Linked DNA regions of Homo sapiens: region 2 is linked to region 1. The links come from fine-mapping of genetic effects on plasma protein levels. Region 1 holds a variant in brackets. A gene starts in the other region. All regions are shown on their forward strands.

Evidence for each region. PIP is the posterior inclusion probability: the model's chance that the variant is causal. The UK Biobank Pharma Proteomics Project read protein levels with antibody pairs (Olink). The fine-mapping took linkage between variants from a reference panel, not from the people measured, so its PIPs are less certain.
Region 2: VWC2 starts here. The variant in region 1 is fine-mapped to the plasma level of the VWC2 protein (UK Biobank, PIP above 0.99).

The regions. Positions count from the first base shown.
Region 1 is chr3:52,834,605-52,837,501 of GRCh38, forward strand. The region is part of intron 8 of STIMATE-MUSTN1 (STIMATE-MUSTN1 readthrough); the gene reads right to left. It overlaps MUSTN1 (musculoskeletal, embryonic nuclear protein 1), which reads right to left and starts at 415. Exons shown (of 3, transcript NM_205853.4): 1 at 336-415. The coding sequence starts at 344. It overlaps STIMATE (STIM activating enhancer), which reads right to left. Exons shown (of 8, transcript NM_198563.5): 8 at 2,129-2,897. RefSeq lists an enhancer at 2,846-2,897. The variant T/C (reference allele first, on the strand shown) is at 1,704.
Region 2 is chr7:49,772,008-49,774,904 of GRCh38, forward strand. VWC2 (von Willebrand factor C domain containing 2) reads left to right here and starts at 1,631. Exons shown (of 4, transcript NM_198570.5): 1 at 1,631-2,106.

The sequences.
Region 1 (2,897 bases):
GCACAAAGCTCTACACACTGAGCTATATCGGCAGCACACACACAGATGCGCACACACACACACACACACACAGGCACATGCAAAGATCTATCTAGGCCCCCCCCACCCCCAACATTTCTCTCCACTCCTCCTAACAAACCGTGGAATACCACCAAAGCCACATAGAAGAGGGGTTCTTCAGGGGGTCCTCCCTGAGCCCCCATCTCCCAAGGGCTGCAGAGCCTCCAGTTCATGCTTGGGGCTCAGATCAAGACACAGCTGCCAGAGCCGAAAGTGTCCAGGACTCCACCTCCACTCCCTCTGGCATCAACACAGCCCTTGCTGGGTCCTCCTACCTGGGACATGGTGGGTATTGTGTAAGCGCTGGGTCTCTGAAGGCGCCTCTCTGGCAGGCAGCAGCTGCTGGAAAAGATCTGAGTGGAGCCCAGCCTTCTGAAACTTATATAGCCTGCTTGCTTGTCCCGCAGAGTCACTGCCCCTCCTCTGACAGGCTCCCTGATGATTCAGGTCCGCAGGGTCGCTGGCTTCAGAGTTTATTCTCGGAGATGAGAGGGGCTCCCAGTACTGCTGCCTGGGGGCTGCAGCCCTGATGAAAGCAGATGGCTGCAGAGACCCTTTGCCCTCTGGGACAGCTGCTTGATTCGCCGGGGGGAGGTGCTGGCACTGACGGACATGCTTTGTGTTTACGGATTTGGGTCCTGGAATGTGTGACCATCTGAATTGTTCCTCTGCAAGGGTTCATCCCAGTGTGTGGGGTGGGTGTGGGGTGTCCCTGAGGGAATGGAGGGCCCTAGCTGGGTTGGACTGCTCCAAGCTTGTTTTTCTTCCTCTTCCATCCCTTCCCCTGGATTCCAGTGGACAGATTTTCCATCCCTGCATGGTGGCAGAGCAGGAGCTTCCCGTGTCTGCTGCGTCTGATTATGGCAAGCTCACTGGGCCCTTGCAGCAAACTCAGAGAGGGGCTACCACAGGTTCACAGGTGGAGAAAGTGAGGTAAAGGGAGCCTGGGGAGTTGCTCATGTTTTTGCTGATGTCCTTGTCCTCTATCCTATTCCAACTGCAAGTTCAGAGAGGGGGGAGTAAGGGGTCTGGAAAGGACCAGGGAGGAAACCATGCTCGATGGTGACAGCACTGATGAGACAGAGGTGTGAAACAGGCTCAGGCTCAGGCCTGAGCCTACTCACCTCCGAGTAGGTGAGGCCACCGCAGGGGGGCTGGCCTGCAGGACAGTTTCAGTTGCTCAAAGAGGGTGGGGGAGAGTGAAGCCCACTCCAGATACTGAGCTGCAGAGACAAGAACAGGCCCAAGGGCTCCCCGGAAGGTCACTTAGCTCTCCTTTGCTAGAAGCTCCTAACACACCCCTCCTTGCAAGGGGAAGATCCCCCAGGGCACAGGCCAGGAGCCTACGCCTGGGGTGGGTATGGGGAATAGGTGTGCATAGGTCGCAGCCCTCCCAGTAACACACATATCTAAGTCCTTTTCAGTTTATGATGGAGATTATTTTTATCCTCGAAGGCTCCAGGCAGATGGAACTCAACCAGGCACTGACATTTGGTTATCCCAAATGCCACTCCATTGCTGTCATACTTTGAACCCCACCCCAATCCCCCTCCTGACACCCTGGCTCCAGGAGGCCAATGAGAGGACTGCCAGGCTTGATCTGAGACAAGTGCTGACATGAGGAATGCCCAGGATGTGGCACA[T/C]GGGCCAAGAGGCAGCTGAGGGCAGGCCAGGCCTTGTGGGGGCCTTCCACTAGTTCCAGGGGTGCCCCTGCAGATGGCACCTGATGCTGCGGCTCTGCCCAGGGACCTCCTTCCAGCCCCGCAGCCTCAGGGACAAGGATGTGGGCTACTCACTGCTTATACTCTACCTCCCCAACACGATGTCCTCCTCAGAGACGGACTTGCTTTAATTCTCACTAGCGAAGAAGTGGAGATGGACATGGCAAGAGCATGTTTGGCTTTTCACTGGGCAGTTGCTGGCTCCCACTCCTGCCATGAGGCTTCGTAAGGTTCCTTCTCACTCTGGTCCCTGGGGAGAACCTTCTAATTCACAGGGGAATCTTTTTTGACCCTGCCAAGCTGTTTCAACTCCAGAGAACCCACAACCACAACCACAAATGTGATGGTTTCTTTTTAAAAAAAACTGTAATAAGATGCCAAACTTTATTGTAAACCATTTTACAATGTAAGTACATCATCTTCTCTTTCATTTCAAAAAAACGTTTCCATGAATCCTACCACCACCGATTAAGCACCCCCACTGGATGGCTGCTGAAGTGGGCCATGGTTTTCCTTGCATAGGTCTGACTTCTAACAAACTTCAGGAAAAGAAAAATCAAATTTAAAACAACCCAACCAACCAACCACCAACCAACCCAGGAGCTCAAGGTGCTTGTGGCAAGTCAGACCATAAGTCCCTTACCAAAAGCCAAGCCCCTCAGAGCTGCTAATGTTTCACGAAGTAAAACAGAGAGCTCTGCACTCTTAGCTGCAAGCGTGTGAAACTTCTAAAAGCCAGCCCCACATTCTACAAGGCAGCTGCTCTGGCCAGTGGGAAGCTCCTTGCACTGCCTATCTTAGCCTGGCTGCGAAAAGGCCAGTGAACTGCAAGGGCAGAGTGAGCTGCCAGCTGGGCGCTGCTCCCTCCAGGGTTCTGAGGCAGCCTTTGGACATAAACTTGGGGCTGCACCCTACAGGCTTACACTGTCTAAGGGAAGTCACAGCTTGGATTTGAGCCTTTTAATATTTTCCCTGAAGAAAGAGGCATGACAGGTGACATTAACCCATGACTCCCTGTTGCCAGGGAGGGCACAAGTTAAAGCTTGAGGAAGGAGGCCACCAGCACGGCTGAGGGGCCACAGACCCTCCTCTTGCATGTGTGCAAGCTGAGTGGAC
Region 2 (2,897 bases), not on the chromosome of region 1:
GAGGCCAGGAGTTCAAGACAAGCCTGGGCAACAAAGCAAGATCCCATCTCTACCAAAAAAAAAAAACAAAAAAAAAACAAAAGAAAAAACCTAAACGAAACAAAACAAAACAAACAAACAAAAAATTAGCCCTGTGTGGTGACCTGTACACCCAGCTCCTCCGGAGTCTGAGGCAGGAGTTTGAGGCTGCAGTGGGCCGTGATCATGCCACTGCACTGAAGCCTGGGTGACAAAGTGAGATCGTGTCTCTAAAACATTAAAAAAAAAAAAAAAAGGAAAAATGAGAGTGAGAACTGAAACAGCAGAAGGGCTCAAATCATCCTGTACATAGAAATCCTCCATCCAGGCCAGGCGCGGTGGCTCACCAGCATTTTGGGAGACCGAGGCAGGAGGATCACGAGGTCCGGAGATCGAGACCATCATGTCCAACATGGTGAAACCCCGTCTCACTAAAAATACAAAAACAAAATTAGCTGGGGGTGATGGCGGACGACTGTAGTCCCAGCTACTCAGGAGGCTGAGGCGGCAGAAAGGCATGAACCCGGGAATCGAGCTTGCAGTAAGTGGAGATCGCGCCACTGCGCTCCAGGCTAGGCCACAGAGCGAGACTCCGTCTGAAAAAAAAAAAAAAGAGAGAGAGAGAGAGAAAGAAATCCTCCATCCAGCCCTGTTGGTTGTGTATGTGTTGGAGGGGGTGGAGGGGCAGCCTTCTCAGGCTTTCAAGGAGGGCTCCCTAGCACCTCAGCTAAGATTTGTTTGTCTATACTATTAAAAGATAGACATAACTGTGTCCCAAACCAGCCTCCCCAGTTCCCACCAGCCAGAGCGCCTGACCTTGCAGGGAAGCTTATCTGTTTACCGTCCGAGCACTTTCAGGGATTCTAAAATGCCGTGAGTGGGAACCACTGCCATGGGCCATTTCCATGAAAATTCAATTTCGGGGATTAATTTGAACAGGTACTATTGACGTTTTCTCGTTTACACAAGATCAAAGAGTAAAAACAACCGGGCCTCTGCTTAACAGTTGAGGATTCTAGCAAAGTTAGGAAACAGGTTTCTATTTGTAGTAGAAGAGAGAGCAGGCAGAAAGAGGAAGATGGGAGCGGGGAGAGATTGGCAGAGATTCAGAAAGTTCGCGCTTGAGATTTTTACGTTTCTTACTCGTAAACGTCTATTTCTCTGGGTTTCTGAATGCAAAGACGAGAAAGTCTCAACAGTCTGCTAAACTAACACGGCCTTCGAATCCCAATCTGAACACAGTAGCTGAAACAAGCTGTCCACAAAGAGGAAAGCCAGAGGGGGCCAATTAGGAAGGAAGAAATTAAAGAAAAGAGAAAAGCCAAGATGAAAGGTCCAGCGCAAAGTGAATGACTCGACTGGAGAATGGCAGCCCTGGCAGGGTCTGCGGCCGGCTGCGGAGGTGGGGACGCGGCCGCGCGGACGAGTGACAGGTTGGTCCGGCGCAGCAAAGGGAGCGGGTGCGGCGGTAGGGCCTCTCCGGGGGCAGCGCGAGGGCCTCCCCCGGGGCAGCGCGGGCCAAGGCGGGGCCTCCAGAGCGGGGGCAGCAGAGGAGGGAGCGGAACGGGAGCCGGGCGGAGGCGGCTGCGGCAGGGGGAGGCGGGAGGCGGGCGCGCTAGCTCCCATGCTGGCCTCGGTGCCACTCGCGCGCCGGCCGCGCTCCGGGCTTCTCTTTTCCCTCCGACGCGCCACGGCTGCCCAGACATTCCGGCTGCCGGGTCTGGAGAGCTCCCCGAACCCCTCCGCGGAGAGGAGCGAGGCGGCGCCAGGGTGGCCCCCGGGGCGCGCTTGGTCTCGGAGAAGCGGGGACGAGGCCGGAGGATGAGCGACTGAGGGCGACGCGGGCACTGACGCGAGTTGGGGCCGCGACTACCGGCAGCTGACAGCGCGATGAGCGACTCCCCAGAGACGCCCTAGCCCGGTGTGCGCGCCAGGCGGAGCGCGCAGGTGGGGCTGGGCTGTTAGTGGTCCGCCCCACGCGGGTCGCCGGCCGGCCCAGGATGGGCGCTGGCAACCCGGGCCCGCGCCCGCCGCTGCTACCCCTGCGCCCGCTGCGAGCCCGGCGTCCGGCCCGCGCCCTGCGCTCATGTATGTAGGTTTGGCGCCGGTCTTCAGGGCTGAGGGTGCATGCTGGGTGTCCCCGCGCGGCCGGACGCGCTCCAGCTGGGTTCAGCCGCTCAGCTGCTCCGGAGGAACCCCCTCCCCCGCCCAAGTTTGTGAATATGGGCGCTTCGCCCAGTGTTGAGGTCGGCAGGGACCGGGCAGGGGGTCAGCAGGGCCGGGCACGTCCGGAGCCCTCAGGGAGGAGGGCTGAGGGGGAGGGGACAGACGCACCGGAGTGCGCAGAGTGGGGGCGTTCGGGGAGTGAGGCGGAGAGAGGCTGGATTGCCGGTGTCCTGCGGCGTCTCGGGCTCTCCCAGCCCCTTTGGGCGGCAGAAACTTTGGAATCCAGAAAGGCTGGCCGGGATCCAGCGAGTAGGAGGGTCTCGCGCCCACTCTGCGCCCTGGGGCCCCAGCCTCCCGCACTGCACACCTTGGTGCTGCCCGGGCGCTTCTGCTCCGCAGCCAGGACACTACAAGACTGAGCGCTGCGGCCGGCGACCTGGCTCCCAAGGCTCGGAGGGGCGGGCCGGCAGAGGAGCTGAAGCCCCGGGAATCCCCGACCCGGCCCTCTGGCAAGGGGCCGAGGGCATCCTTTCATGCAGCGGGGCTTAGAGAGCGGGGAGGGGGCGTCTGCTCCCGAGACGGGAGTCTTTTAAGAAGTTGTTAGAAATGAATCGTGGAGTCCTAGGAGAAGCTTTGTTTAACCTCCCCGCATTTTCCCAGCACAACCCCCTAAAGCAAATGAGGAAGAGTTTCCCTCTTATCTTCCTGTACAT